Linked DNA regions of Homo sapiens: region 2 is linked to region 1. The links come from fine-mapping of genetic effects on gene expression. Tissue or cell type: whole blood. Region 1 holds a variant in brackets; the other region holds the start of a gene. All regions are shown on one strand. Distances are from middle to middle.

What was found. PIP is the estimated chance that this variant, and not a neighbour inherited with it, causes the effect.
Region 2: it holds the start of ARHGEF28, and the variant in region 1 is fine-mapped to the expression of ARHGEF28 in whole blood (TOPMed, PIP above 0.99).

The regions. Positions count from the first base shown.
Region 1 is chr5:73,689,437-73,697,542 of GRCh38, forward strand. The region is part of intron 2 of ARHGEF28 (Rho guanine nucleotide exchange factor 28); the gene reads left to right. Among named protein-coding and RNA genes, the nearest start is that of ARHGEF28, 67 kb to the left of the region's middle. RefSeq lists an enhancer at 4,046-4,670. The variant G/A (reference allele first, on the strand shown) is at 4,804.
Region 2 is chr5:73,621,631-73,629,736 of GRCh38, forward strand. It overlaps ARHGEF28 (Rho guanine nucleotide exchange factor 28), which reads left to right and starts at 4,566. Exons shown (of 36, transcript NM_001177693.2): 1 at 4,566-4,692. RefSeq lists a silencer at 4,275-4,364.

The DNA of each region.
Region 1 (8,106 bases):
GGCCCTAGCAAGCCTCCTGCCTTAGCCTCCCCAGTAGCTGGGACTACAGGCACATGCCACCATGGTCAGCTTTAGTCTAATTTTTAAAAGAATCCATGGCAGTTCCCTGAGTTGCAGTTGCAGAAAAAGAGAAACACTACTAAGATCAGAGAAGAAGCAGGAATTGGCAAGACTGGCAGCCAAGAGCTTTATAATATCACTTTGTGGAACCTAGGGATATATATGAGCATTGCAAATCCAATTTTTAGTCTCTAAGCAGCTTCCTGCATTCGTGCTTGAAAAGAAACTGAAGGAGCAGCACTGGAAGGCTAGTCTGTTTATTCCAAGGAGAAAAAGAAAAAACAAAAAAAAAAAACACCAGAGGCCTGCAGTCTGGTTTGAAGTCTAGGCTTAGTTTTTAGACTGAATGGTACAATAGTATTAGGAGGTGTATTTTAAGCTGGAAAGAATTGTGGTGGTGAAGCTAATGAGAAGTGCAAAAGCCTGGAAAAGGGTAAGTTAGAATCAGTGGAACCTAAGGTGTTTATTTTTCTGGCTGAAAATTCTTCAGTTAACACCACTTGGGAGCTTAAAAGTTCTGTACTGGAAATTATAAAGATATTTTTATTTTGGTTTTATTTTTAAATTAATTATTTTAAGATTTCACGTTGCCGTGAGAAAGTAGATAATTTTATTTTTAGATTATTGCTCTTAGTCTTCTTTTTCCTAGTTTGTGTGTAAAAAGAGATAGGAAACGATGCAAGGACAGCTTAAGAGGAGAGATTTTGCTTACTGGGCATTTAATTAAACTTTGAGAGAGGAAGAGATTTTGCATTTACAAGCCAATTTGTGTTTTTGCTAATGAATGCTTTTTGATTACATTTTATATTGAGTTTTCTCTACATTTTGTAAATCAAGGAGAATTATAAAACAAATACCTATTCTACTTATTTATCCAAGAGCTCCTTTTTTTACATTAATTATATTTTATTTTTGTATAAAGTATAATTGGCTGTGTGTGGTGGCATATACCTGTAATGTCAGCACTTTGAGAGGCTGCTTAGTCCTCCCTAGATCAGCCTGGTCAACATTGTAAGACTCTGTCTTTACAAAAAAAAAAAAAAAAAAAAAAAAAAGCCACGTGTGGTGGCTCAAGCCTATAGTCCCAGCTACTTGGGAGGCTGAGGTGGGAGGATCACTTGAGCCAAGGAGTTCAAGGCTGCAGTGAGCTGTAATCACACCACTGCACTCCAGCCTGGGTGAGAGAGCAATACCCTATCTCAACAAAAACAAAAGCTGTTTGTAAAGTATAATTAATGCTAGTCTTTCTGAAATATCAGTTTAGTGCTGTGAATAAAACAGAAAAGTCTTGCTTGAGAAATTGTTGGTTCCGAAGATTTTTCCATTTTTCCTCAATTAAAATGGCTTTATTTAAAATGATTAAATAACACTTGCTTATTATAAAGAATATAATAGTAAGTAAAATTATTAAAAAGAAAGTGAAGATCAGTTGAAGTTCCACCTTTTTTTTTTGAGACAAATTCTCGCCGTGTCATCCAGGCTGGGGAGTGTAGTGCGATCTTGGCTCACTGCAGCCTCCACCTCCTGGGTTCAAGCAATCCTCCTGCCTCAGCTCCCAGAGTAGCTGGGACTAGAGGCATGAGCCACCACACCTGGCTAATTTTTGTATTTTTTGTAGAGATGGGGTCTTGCCATGTTGCCCAGGCTGGTCTCAAACTTCTGGGCTCAAGAGATCCACCCACCTTGGACTCCTAAAGTGATGAGATTATTGGCATGAGCCACTGTGCCCAGTGAAATTCTCCTTTTTAGAGAACTTTATTAGTATTTTGGTAAACACTAAAATTTGTTTGGCAAATGTGTACACACACACACACACACACACACTCATGATATTTCATAAGGAATTATACGGGAATGCTGTTTTTATTATAATGGACAGGACCCCATTTCCCCTCACCCCCATTTTATAATTCCCGTTCCTGTACTCTGAGCTAACCCTTAGAGTCATCTCCTGCAGGGGTTCTTAGCAGCATCAGCATCCCTAGGAACTTGCCAGAAATGCAAATTCTCAGACCTCATGCTGGACCTACTGAATCAGACACTCTGTGGATGGGGCCCAGCAATCTGTGTTTTAATAAAACTTTCAAGCGATTCTGCTGTGTGCTAAAGATTGAGAACCATGGACTTAGTGCAAACATTTTCATGTTCTTCTGTATTCATATATACATATACAAGCTTTAGTAGAAGGATCATATTATGTGGACTTCTGTATCTTTTCCAACTCAGTGATACTTTGTATAAACTCCTATAAGCCATCAGACATAGCTCAAACTCACTCTAATTAATGAATAGGTATGGGTCAAGCTCATTCCCTATTGATGGCCATTCACTTTGTTTCAGTTCTTGGCAATCATGAACAATTATTCACCAGACATCCTGTCCATATGTCCTTATATGTTGATACTTTCATCTCTATGGGATAGATTCCTAGGAGTAGAATTGCTGGATGAAGGGCATACATATTTTAAATTTTAGTGGATTGCTTTGCAAATGAGATCTAATAGTTGACATTTTATTCAGCAACTTTCAGAAATATTTAATGTCTATTTCTTTAGCTTTAATAACTGATAATTATGTAGCTGGGGATTATGTTCTCATTTTCATTGTGCAAAGAAAGGAGGGATGTTAAATTTTGTATGTTGATTAAGTTGGTGAAGGGTTAGAAGTGTCCTTTATTTCTCCCATTTCTCAAATTCTGACTAATATGAGCATCTATTAGTCAGAATTTGACTAATCCGTGGAGATTTTTTTTAACATCTGCAGAGGGTGCATGTGTGAGACTGTGTGTGTGGGCTCTTGCTCCCTTCCACCCTTCTGAGGTGCTGTGCAGACATGTTAATCATAGCCACTGACTGAGAAGAGTGTAATCACTTTTTTCTCTGGAGGCTGCAAATTGTATAACCATTTGGGCAGTGGGAGTTTTTTGCTTCAGTAGCTTGTTTCCAGCTGGATCTAAGATACTTCGCTATTCCCTTAGCATTTTATGTTTATATTATTCTTTTATTCTGAGTCACTGTCTCCTGCTGTGTTTGGTCCCAAGAATGTTGGTTGCTGCTGGGCTCATTGTGGGTGTTGAAGGTATAATCTGATGTCTAGAGGTAGTGGGGGAAACTCTATCCTATTCAGCCTTTTCTAATTTCTGGATGTTGGTATAGCTTCCATGAATACTTGGTGGAGCATGCTCCCCTTGGTCCCAGCCTTCTGCAGGGAGGGCCGGAGGACAGGGCCCAAGTTGTCTGGATGGACTCTTCCCCAGCTCAGGGAAGCAGCTTCTTATTGAGGTAGTAAGTGACTTGGTGGCTTTGTTCTGGGGTCACCCAGCAGGGGCCTTCTTCCGGATCCCTGCAGATTCCCTGTGGCTTTTGGGTCCTGTGGAAGGAAATCCTGTCCTCCAGACACTGCCCTTCTCTCTTGGTGGCCCTCCATCCCCCAGTGGGCTACCTATGACTGGCCTCATGCCCATCAACTCGAAATATTAGTCTATGAGGGCATCTTGGGGACCTTTGCCTGGGCACCCTCACTTTGCTGATGAGGAGATTAGTCTCCAAGAGGGAGATTGACTGGCTTGACTAAGTTAACTCAGCTGGTTTGACACTCTGGATTTTAAAATGCTCTATTAGAAGTCATAAGAATAATTTTTTTTGACTCAGAAAATTTGTTAGTGGCAGATCCCACAATAAGCCTGGGGTTTTCCGACCTTCACTGGTAACGACCTTCCCCACTGCTCTGCCACATCTCCATTTCCTCATTGACCAAGTACTCAAAGGCACCATTTTATCCTTTCCTGTCCTGCAACTGCCTTTGAGCTTTCTGACATGAATGGGGCTCCTTCATGGACCTTAAATTAAAGGGTCTCTCTTTTCTTTTATCTCACTAGAGGATGCTGCTGGTAACTATGTCTAGGCAAGCCCTGACCTTCTGAAGCTCATTTGCTCACAAGAAGCCAGACCTATTAATTGATGGTCATTTGCTCCATTCAGTTCTTCCCAGCTCAAAATAATAGAAATTTTCATTAGCTCAGGTGTCAGAGGGTGGTAGGTAAGGGTGTCTTTCAAAACAGGTTAGTACAGCTAAGTCTAGCTTAGCCAATGGAATCGGGCAGGGCTTTTGCCTGAATGCAACTTCTAGATCACGTGTTTACTTTGTGCAAATTTGTTTTTAGCGAATTATATTAACTTTACTTGTGTCTTTATTTAAAACACAGCAGCATGTGCATCTCAGAGGATTGCCACCTGCTGGGGTGTTTCTGCCATTGTCAGTTAATCTGTGCTCCCTGAAGTTGGTTTTCTTTGCTGGCTTTTGTTTTCTACTAACTTAACTTGACCTTTTCCTATCCTCTCTGAATGGCCTTGCTTTTATCTCTTTGCCTTGTCTCCTGTTTTCCTTCTGAGGGGGCAAACAAATTCCAAAGCAGCAGTTCTAGCCATAGAGCAAAGAGAGGACCATGGTAACTGTTTTACCCAGCCTGGCCAGCAGCCACGAGATGTCAGTTCCTGGGAAGTCTGAAGCTCCTTAGCTGCTGCAGGAGATTGCTTGGTAGTTCTGGCAGGAGCAGAGAGGAAAAGCTTCTCAGACTTTAGCAAAACCTTTGACTTACAAACATTTTACAAATCCTCCATTAGCTTCATCCCATTTCACATTTTGAAAGAAACAGTTCCCTCTTCTCTCAATACAATGCCACTTTATGGTGCCCCCTCCTACTGTCACAACTGAGATGATAAGCTTCTGGGGAAAGGCCCAAAG[G/A]TGAATATACAACTACAGAAGACCACAGGAAGAGTCAGCCTAGCACCCAGCTTTGAAGAAATTTCTTAGTGGGTGTGAGTTTCAGGTCCGTGGGTAAGTAAGTGCCAAGTGTGCTTAAAGTCTGATGCTGCCTCACTTCCTGTATTTCAGTGACAGCTCCCACAATTTGGGTGGTGTGCAGCCTGTATTTTTAATAAAGAACTTGAAGTAGCCGATATTTTTGTTCTGTTTGAGTTTTTAAAATGTTTTACCATCTAAGTAAGGATTTTAGGCATGATGGAAATGGGTTAGAGTTTTCTCTGGGAGAAGCCTCAGTAAAAGAAATAACGTGATCCAGGTAAAATGTTTTATTTCCATATTCCAGAAAGGCAGCCCTTATAGAAGATGTGATTTAGCTATACTACCTTCTCAGCAGTTCCTCCTGCTTACACCTGAGGAGGGTGTGCATGTTTTAAATAAGTGTCTCTAGCTCTTGCCTTCTTTTCCTCTCCATATCTTGATGCTGTTACTTTTATCAAAACGGATCTTATGAAGGTCACTAAGTTTGCTCTTGCTTAATCTAAGGTGTTTATTTTCTCAAGTCCCCATTTAGTGCCATGCACTGTAAGAGCAGAGAGTGAGAAACAAGGTCTCACGTCCCTGCTCTCGCAGAATGCACTTGGGAGTAGGAGACAGAAAGTAAGTAGGTAAACGAATAAACAAATAAGAATTTCAGATGGTAGTATGGGTTAGGACAATACAAGGCTATGACATGGCAGAGAATTGTGTGTGTGTGTCATTAGTCTCTCTGGGATCTCCTGGAGAGCAGTCTAGTAGAGGGATCAGAAAGCACGAAGGCCCTGGAGTGGAAATGAACTTTTTGTATTTGAGGGACAACAAAAGGCCAGCATGGCCCTTGCATTGTGAGGGAGGGGAGAGGAGAGGAGACAGGTCAGAGAGGTGGGAGGGGCCAGGTCATGCCCATAGGTTGGTGGGGGAGTTGCATGATTTGATTTATGTTTAAAAAGTGTACTTTCAATGTTCGTGAACTCTGCTGGTTCTTTTTCAAGTTATCTCTTTGTCTATTGTGCTTTCCTCTCCTCTGTTGTGTGGGTGTTCCCCAGGGCCCTCTGCTTTCCCCTCTTTTTCTCGCGAGCTCATCTATTCTTGTTATTTAGACCACCACTCCTCCTGAAAGACTCCCACATGTGGGCCCTCTCGTCTTGACCTCTGCCCAGGCCTCGTCTTCCATTTCCAGCTGGCCTGTTTGCTATTATCACTCAGTTAGCCAGGATTTGACTTTAAGTTCAGACTGTTATATTTTTTAAAAGTTTTCCAAGTTTTCCTCTAAGCAACTCCTCTTTCCAACTTCCTGATTTCTGTTACCATCCCACCACTCTCCCAGGTGTCCTGCTTTAAGTTGAGTTTTTGTAATTCCTCCAACCTTTGTCCTCTGTCTTGATCAGTCATCAAGACCTGCTGATGGCCATGGCTGTCCTCTCTCTCTCCTCAGCCATTGTTCTAATTCACCTTTGGATTATTGCCCCTGGCCTCTTCAGAGTTGCCATTTTCTCAGAACTGGTGAAGACTTTATCATGTCTTTCAAGTATTATTTCCCTACATTCATCTCGCAACTCGCAGCCATATCATTTATCTGTTCTAATCAGACAAGTCCTCTCTACCCTAGTGGACTTTCCTCATTCTCTTATTTCTAGGACATCACCCAAGCTGTTTTCGTTCCATATCCAGGAATGCCACTAAGGTAGGAATGGGATGCAATATGGTATGTTGGTTATGACCTTGGATAGCTATGCATTTGGCCGTGCATCCTCTCCTGAACGCAGATTGTTACCCTTCATTACATTGCAATACCTAGTGCAGTGCCCAACGCACTGTAGGCTTTCACTAAACGTTTGTGGATTGAGTTTCTGGAGAATCATTGAGGGGAGGCAAGCTTGCTCTCTGACCCTTTATAGGAGCATTCCAGGCAATGGCTGTGGTCATTAGGGGGAGGGTCCCATTGACAAAAGTGTTGATAATTAAAGATGATTTGGGGTCACATATGTAGGACTGCAGAAACCCTTTACGCCATAAGCTCCAGCCATACCCTTCTGCTCTCAGTTCTTCGTGAATGCCATGCTTCTTCCTGGCCAGGACCTTTGTATGTGCGGTTGTCTTCACCTAGCATACTCTTGCTTCCTTCCCCTTTGTATAATTGAATTCTTACTCATTTTCCAGATTTCAGCTCAAATGTCACATCCTTAATATAGTCCTCTAGACATTTTCTATTTTGAGAGAGTATTGTTGTTATTGTTTTGTTTAGTGTCCCTTCTATTGTAAGCACCAATACAACAGAGACTCAAACATTCAATTAAAATTTGTAATTTGTCTTTATAAACGAATATTCATTTTCAATCTAATTTTGTTTTTATAATTTTATTCCTTTTCTGAAAGGAAATCCTTCCAATGGCATAATCTTCTAGTGGACAATTGTTTTTGTCCACTGATTTTCCAACACTAGTTTAGTGCTTGGCATGTATTACATAATAAATATTTGTTGAATTAGTACACAGTTCTAATTTAGTGCCATTCAATAAACAGCGGTTGAGGCTCCTCCTGGAGCACTCTTTAATTTTGTTGTTTGCTTATTTCTGTACTGTGAGTTTTCCCAGCAGGTATGTGACCATCACTATTTTGGGACTGGGACTGTCATTTGAGTTTTTGTATTCCAGCTGCACGAAGAGATAGAGAGATGGTCCAGCAGGAAGGTGCTGTCATCATAATCTTCAGTAAATTTGGAGGTTTGGGGAACATGTCTCAGAGTTTGAAACTTAACATTTTTAAGGTACTATATGGAATATGTAAACATTATGCAATAAAAAATTAAGGAAGTCTTTTCGAGGTAGACAATTCCTGGCTGAGAACTAGAACTTAACAGGAAGTTTTGTTAAAACTGTAGGGAATGAAAAGCTTACTTTATCAGACAGGAAGTTCCTGAAGAATCTCCTAACTCAGAAAAGATTATCTGTGAACGATGTCACATGAACTCTTTTTACCCCCTTCTTTAGCATTCTTTACTTAGTATCTCCCAGCACTTATAGTTACTGTAATTTGCATCTTTGAAAAAATCATTATGTTAATCTGTTTTCCATTACTTATAATAGAATACCTGAAACTGGGTAATTTATAAGAAACAAAATGTATATCTTATAGAACTAGAAGCTGGGAAGTCCAAAGTTGAGGGGGCACGTGTAGTGAGAGCTGCCTTGCTAGTAGGGACTCTCTGAAGAGTCCTGAGATGGCAGAGGCCATCTCACCTGAGGG
Region 2 (8,106 bases), 68 kb before region 1:
GTGCAGCTGCACCACTTTATTCCAGCCTGAGTGACAGAGTGAGACCCTGTCTCAAAAAAAAAAAAAAAAGGTCAATATGCAAAGGAAGGGTCTCAATAATGTGAATCTCTAGAGACTGGCTCTGGAGGTGGAGTAAATCTCTAGTGATAGAATTTTAGACCCTAAGGAATCAGCTGAAAAGAAACAATGTTTTGTCAATGGAGCATCCCCAGTGTTTCCAAATTGCACACGTGGAAAGTGTTGAACTCTTCATAATTATTGGGCTGGCTCCACTCAAAAGGCGTATTTATAATTTCCCCAATATCTTCCTTTTGCTCATGTAAATACCAACATGAAAATATCAGCCACAATGAGTTCCATGTGCTTTCCTAAAAATACCTGAGACTAATATGGACTTCAAGAACATAGCTGCATTATGACTTTTGTAGGATCTGGGCACTTTTGCCTTCATACGCACCTTCCTCCAGAAAAATAAAAATGTAGATAAAAAGAAAAATTATATTTCACTATTGCATTGTTATAGATACAAATATATTAATATTATATGCTAAAACATTTTCTTTGACCTAAAAGTTCATTTTTCTCTTCTGATTTTAAAAGAAATTAAAATATTTTTTGGCCCCTATAAGTATTATAGACCCTAGGCACTGAGCTTGCTATACCTGACAGGTAAGTTGCCCCTTTAGGGAAGACCTCATACTGAAAACTGGCTAAAAACAACCTATTATTTTCTTCAAAGATTGCAAAATATTAATTTTTTGCATAGTTGGTGCTCAATAAATATCAGTTGATTAAAAATATTCAGAGATGTTAAGACTTCTCCTGTAACAAATCTGAATATTTCTCTCTAAATCTATTATTTCGCTCCTCAGAGTATGGTCCACAGACCAGTAGCCTCAGCCCCAACTCAAACTTATCAGAAATGAAGAATATCAGACTCCATCTGCTACTAAGTCAGAATTTGCATTTTAACAAGATCCCCAAGTGACTCATATGCAGATTACACGGAAGCCCTGCTCACCTGCAATTTAAACCTGATGGTTTAACATTGGAAATGGAAGAGCTGATTCCCCTTAACCACATATAATTGAGTGCGATCCTCACCCTCCTCCAGTGTCAATACATTCAGTTCCTTTAGTCCAGTGGTTCCCAACTTTGGTTGAACATTGGAATCACCTGGAGAGCTTTCAAAAAACGACCAATAACATGGGCCCAATTTTCTGGAGATTCCGAATGATTGATCAGGTGGGCGTTCTGGGAATCAAGATTGTTTTAAAGCTTCCCAGGTGATGCTAATGTGTAGCCAGAATGAGAACTACTGTGTGGATTTCCCCATGAGATCTGTCCCCTGGTTTTAATAATGTTGGCCTCTTTTCTCTGTGTTCTCCGACCTTCCTAGGCTGGACAACCAAGTTTATAATCCAGAAATAGTTTCTTGTCTTGGGGTCTGCCATGCCCTATTAATTATCTCAAAGCTCTGAAGTGTTCTCCTAATACAACCATACACTAAAAGATTAACTGCCACTATTTTCCACATCCTTATTATGTGTCCTGTAATCACTTTCAGTCACGTAATCCTCACAATGATAGTATATGCTGTTCTTATGCCCATTATACAGATGAGGAAATGGAGGCTTAGAAAGGTTGTATCTTCCCAAGATCATCCTATTTGTATTCCAGAGTTTGTTCACCTCCTATTAAATCTACCATTTTCTAGTATCTTGCTTTCACTTAAGAAACACTAGTAATTCCCTAACTCACGTGGCTAAACATCAGATTTACAATTATCCAATTTTTGAGAATTATTGACAAAGGAAATATAATGAAGGCCAGGAAATAATTAAATAGATAATATAATTAGCAGTGGTTATAATTCATTAAAGTTTGAAAATGGTGACATTTTTCTTCTTGCATAATGGATGTGATAGTTCAATTAAAAAACAAATACTAAATACTCCAGAAATGCCCTGTGTTGGGACTGTGAAGATTACAGGGGTAAGGAACAGGTTTTGTCCTTGAATTTCAAGTTGAAGGGAGGATAAGAGCCTACAGTTGTCCAACATGTGACAGTTAATATAATCAGGTGCTACACTGTGTAGTAAGGCCATTATGCTTTGCCAAAATTCAGAGGGTAGCAGAAACCAGGACAATGTAAGGATTTATGGAGGAGGTCTATCTGGAGTGAAGTATGTAAGGATGAATGGGGATTGAATCTCTAGAAAAGACAGAGCTGAGCTAGGACATTGGCATAATACTCACTAGGCAGTTAGAATTTCCCTAACTGAATGGCCAGCCTGGTTTCTTGCTGGCTGAATGTCCCTTGTCTGTAGAGAATATATAGTCTTTGAATTCAAAACAAATGCTGTCCCAGCCAAGCTTAGTGCCAGCAATGTCCTGAGTGACCTATATCTGGAGCAGTGAAATCAATCAGGTGCAAAGGGTTATTTACACAACTGATAGCTTCCTGCCTCAGATAGTCACGGCTTCTTTTAAGGTTGCTGAAGCAAACACTTTGCTTAATATTTGAACCTAGAGAAGTTGAAAGCCAAGTACGTATTTAAATATTGATCAAGCTCAGGGCTTGAGAGCAGGCAAGAAAACTGCAGCTAGCATTGTATGTCCTTGGGTGGTGAGAGTTTCACAATTACTAGTTTTGCTGGTTTCTTTTTAGTGGGGAAGGGGCTTGGGGGTAACTTCTTATAATATTTGTTCCTCTTTCCACATTTTTTTGTTTTTTAAAAAAAGATACATACCTGCCAGAATTAAAAAAAAAAAAAAAAGAAAAAGAGGGCTTCAGTACTAGTGATATGAAAAAGGACAATAACAACAAAGGCTTCTAACACATCACCATGTTTATTCACCAGAGTTTGGAAACCATTTTTGTCTGGCATGTTGATTCAGTTAATCTTCAGTTCAAGTGATTCTCCTGCCTCAGCCTCTCGAGTAGCTGGGATTACAGGCACGCACCAACACACCCAGCTAAATTGTGTGTTTTTGTGGAGACGGGGTTTCACCATGTTGTCCAGGCTGGTCTCGAGCTCCTGACCTCAGGTGATCCACCCGCCTCAGCCTCCCAAAGTGCTGGGATTACAGGTGTGAGCCACCACGCCCTGCTCAAAATTTTTTCTATTTTTGAAAAGAATATTATTGCTTTTATTTTTATCTTGTGTACCTTGACACTGGGCAGGATATATATATATATTTTTTTTTTCTTTTTTTTTTTTTGTGGCAGCGCCTGAGGCCAGGCCTTGAGTTCACAGCTCTGTGGGGCTGAGGGTGGAATCAGCTGGGATGACAGCCCAGGTCAGGAGTGCAATGCCAGTGTTGGGGTCCCTTTCCCAAGGCGGAATTGCAGCCTTTGCCTTGGAACAGGGCTAAGGCATTCAGACACACGATGGTCTTTCTCTTGCTAATCTCAGCCTTTCTCAGCATTCGTATCAGCAAGGTGGGCTGGGGAAGGTGGCGGCTGGAAGGGAGACAGAAAAGGCCCAGGCCCAGGAGAAGTGGTGGTGGCAGCCTGGGAGCTGGGCTCCATTCTGGCTTGGGATCTTGGTGGCCAGCTTCCTCGGGCCACACCTTTGTTATGGTTCTGTGCGTAGCCAGTCTTCAAAGGAAAAACAAAGCAGAGACTCAAGGTGATTTTATAAATTTTATTAGAAACTTTATATTTCAATACTAATTTCCTTACAAATAGTCTTAACTATAACACTTACTGCCACAGCAGTCTCAGATGGGCAATTTTACCTTTAAAGCTGCAATAATGGTCTTAAGTCTGTATATGAGAGCCTGGCTGATGAAGAGGCTTGGCTTCTGCTCTTGGGGCTGTCATCACATCTAAGAGGAAAACTGCTTTGGAGGATAAGGAAGTCCCTTCACATTGCTGTTCATTGTAAAAGTGGTTATGGTTTTCATACGTTTTTGAATTAAGACTTGCAGCCACTTGCGTGCATAAACGTGAAGGGAATCGCAGCTTGCAAAGCTCTCGGCCAGGGAACATGAGCTTCAAATAAGAGGGCAAATGCTGTTTTTAAAAATAATATTTCCTATTGTAATAGACCCGGGCCGTATTATGTCACGGGTGTGGTGGCTTTTGGCTGGGAACAGCCTGAGCCTCCCTCGGGCCTGGCACAACTCCTTTCGCGAGCGGGCAGCCCAGCGCCTCCCTCGGGAGGCGCCAAGGCGTGGGGGCGCCCGGGGCGCAACTGGCACTCCTGTGGCCCGCCAGGTCCGCGCCAGCCTCCGCGCCTCCGATCTCCGGAGGCCAACGGCCGCAGCCCCGCAGCGGGAGGGGGCTGGCGGAGACAGCGCGGTAGGGGCAGCTTCAGGTTTCCTCCTGGAGCCGGTGTCGGGCGCGGCCGGCGGGCGGGCCTCGCCATGTGATGCGGCCGCCGCGAGCCGGGCCGGGAGGTGGGCAGGCGGGGATCCAGTGGCAGCGGGGAGGCGCGGGGGGAGCGGGGGGAGCGGGGGCGGCACCCGCTGCTGGCGCAGCCAGCCGGGCCCGGGCGCGCGGCCGCGGCTCCACCCCCTAAACCTTGGCTTCAGCCCGGCCGCCGCCAGGCGTTGGCATCGCCGGGGAGAGCCTTCCGGACTCCGGGCGGCGGCTGGCTGGGGGCGCGTTCCGAGGCGCCCTCAGGCAGGGCGCGGGGGCAGAGCCTCGCCTGGGTTCTGGAGGCTGCGGGGCCATCGCTCCAGGTAAATGCTCTTTGGGACTCCATCGTCTGCGTTTCCCTGCAGCTCTGGGCGGAAAAGTTTGTCCACCTGAGTTCGCATCCGCAGGGCCACTTTCTCCAGGGTCCCCAGGGATGCGAGGGTCAGCAGAGGTGACCGGGGAACCGCTGCAGGCGCTGCGGCGCGAGGGCTGGGCGCCGCCTCCCGCTCCCTCGGGAGCGGCAACAAGTGGAGAGGGCGGCGCAGCCTCGTGCGGCGGCGGCAGCTGCGGAGCGCGGGGTCGCTCGGGCGCACTGAGAGCCGGGGGCTGGGCGGGTGAAAGCCCCGCCAGTGTCCTTCGGGAGACAGGGAAATAAACAGCACTCCTGCGGTGGAGAAGGGAGAACGTCGAGAGTTGGTGTCCGCCCTTCCCATCCATGCTTCAGCTCCGGGACTGAGGGTGCTTGGCAGGGCCAGGACCGCAGAATGCAGACGGAACGCAAGCTCAGGACACACGCACTACCACTTACTCGTGTGGAAGCATCTGCTGTGTTTCAAAAGGCATTTATGGTTACCTTGGTTGGGAAAGGTGGTCAGAATTATGTGGGACTCCTTACGCTTATTTTATGGATTTGTTTCCCCTTAAATACCCGGGGTGTATGTGGTGGTGCCCCAGCCTTCCCGTGCTTAGGTTTTCCGAATGACAGGCCGGTGTTTGGCCAAGAAAGCACCATTTGGGTCGAGGGCTGTATGGAAACTGGGTGCTCAGGCGGCCCTGGATACCCAGCTTTGGTTTCCCAGAGACCAGTTAGATTTCTAAGAAAGAATCCATCTCTATAGGCCCACAGCGTCCCCGCATTGGTTGGCTGGGTGGGCCGAGGAACAGTGGCAACATCTGTGTTTGTGCGGCTTCTCCCGCCTTGACCCCTGCCTGGGTATCCACACATCTCCTCACACCAGGAGTTATAGAGGTTCACCACGGACCACACCAATTGGGCAAAATCCAAAGAAAGTAAGATCTTTAATTTTCGTTTATAAAGAACTGATCATTTGGGGTTCCATGGGGCCCCTGGCTTTCTGAAGCGTTGTTATCTTGTGTTCCTAGGCCCTGAAGCTGTCAGGTGTAAGTGAAATCCTGTTTTCACTGCAAAAACAAATCAAGGACCTACCCTTGTTAGGTTCTGTGGCATCTACTTTGTACATGACAATCCAAGCGTAGTGATGACTTCTGGGAAACCTGGGAAGGTTTCTCTAGATCTGTCCTGGGTTTTTAGTTACACATTCCTAAAGCACATGGGTATTTGCCTAATCTTGATTAATAGCCAAAGTAACCCCTTTGGAGTATTTGCAGAAAAGAGATGAATATGGCAAAACCCTTTGGAATTTTTAATACAACATAGTATTTCAATGTAATGTTCTGATGTGGACTCTATATGTGATTATTGGGCTGATTAACTTTGATCAAATAGGAATTTGGCTAGCATCAGATCTTATAGCTAATGGTTAGGGAAACTGAGGCTCAGAGCTAGCTATAGAGTGTGTGACTCAGATGAATGTCTTGGGTAATGGGAGAATGGAGAACAGAGAATCAGTGTTTGTCCTGCTTTTGACTTTTTTTTTTTCCTTATCAAAACCACACAATCTGGCCAACTAAGAACAGGTTGTATAGCAGGCGTGTCATTAGACTTTCCTCTGAAGTACCCAACTGTCCTTTAAGCAGTTTATAAACACTTAAAGGTAAAGAAGAAAAATAGTAGTTAATAACTAAGTTTCTATGAAATGTCTCAGAAGCCTCACTTGGGTGGGTTTCATACTTTTTTTTTTTAATTATGTGAGTACTGCAGAAGAGTTTGGAATGTTTTCTTATTGTGTTCTTATAAGAAACTACACTTGTGGCTAAGACTTAAATTGGGCAGGAATTTCAGGTGAGCTCTGATACATGACCTCCTTTAGTATGCCCCGTGAGAAAAGACTATGTGTTCTAAGTAGGTATTAAAACAAATTGCAGCATATACTATTACTTCTATATTAAACATTCTGTACACCACTATATTGGTACCCAAGCTCCAACAAGTCCTGCCAGTTTATGACCAAGGACTGAATTCCAAGAAAAAAAGATTCATGATATAAATGTTGGAAAAGCCTCACCACTTGGGCATGGCTAGGATGGTACTGAACAGAGCCTAAATTACCTAGGCTGACTATAATTTTATTATGCTTTTATTTACTAATCAGATATGACAGATCTGGTTTGTGTAGGTTTTGTGTAATTGCATTTGTATTTATGTTGCTTTTAGTGAAGCAGAGTAGCTCTGGGATCCCCCCACCGGCCCCCGCCCATAACCTTAAATAAGATTTGTTATGAAGAGGTGGGTCAACCTGGGCAACTCCTACTGAGGATGTAAAAACAGTGTTACATTTGAAGTGCACCAAATTCAGGGAATTCTGCCATGCTAAAGTTGTGCTGTAAATATGCCACCCTGTCAGACTTGAGTCCACATCTCTACTTAGGCAAAGCTGGGCTTTGAGATATTTTTCTTGCTTAAGAAGTGTAGGTCAGGTCCTGTATCACAGAGCATTTTGCTCCATTTGTATGATACTCTGCCATTTTGTCCAGTCTCTGTGACCCTTAGTTCTTTTGTTATTATCATGGTATTGGAAGTTCTCGGAAGCCCAAGGCAGTGTCACTCTACTATTTTGCCATTTTGACAATCTCTATTATGGGGCTCTCTTTCTATGAACATGTTCTTCATTTACATTCATTCAACTAATATTTGTTGAAGTCTTACTATGTGCCCAGCACTGCTCTTTGCTTTGATTCTCTGATCTTTGGATTCCGTGTTGAAGGTGACACTTTTCTGGCTTTAGAGTTTTTAGGGTCTGTTGCATTTTCGGAGTAGACTTTTGCACACTCCACATTAAGACATTTGGCTGGCCAGGGTGGGGGTGGTGGCTCATGCACATAACCCCAACACTTTGAGAGGCTGAAGTGGGAGGATTGCTTGAGCCCAGGAGTTCAAGACCAGCCTGGGCAACATGGCAAAACCCTGTCTCTACAAAAAAAATACAAAAACTAGCCAGGCATGGTGGTGTGTGGTGTGTGCCTATAGTCCCAGCTACTTGAGAGGCAGAGTGGGGAGGATAGCTTGAGTTGGGGAAGTAGAGGCTGCAGTGAGCTGAGATGGTGCCACCACATTTCCAGTCTGGGTGACAGAAAAAGACTCTGTCTCAAAAAAAAAAAAAAATTAAAGACATTTGACTGGCAAAATAAGTCATGTAACTTATTTTTTTAATGTGATAGTGCATCTTCTTAATTGACTTCCATTTTTCCCTTGAAATTTGATCTCAGGCACAATAGTAATTTGCTTATTTGTAACATTATTGCTCCTGGACTTCTTCTCCTGGATAACCAAGATAATGAGATCTGACATCATTTTTTAATGAGAGAAAGTAAAAAAG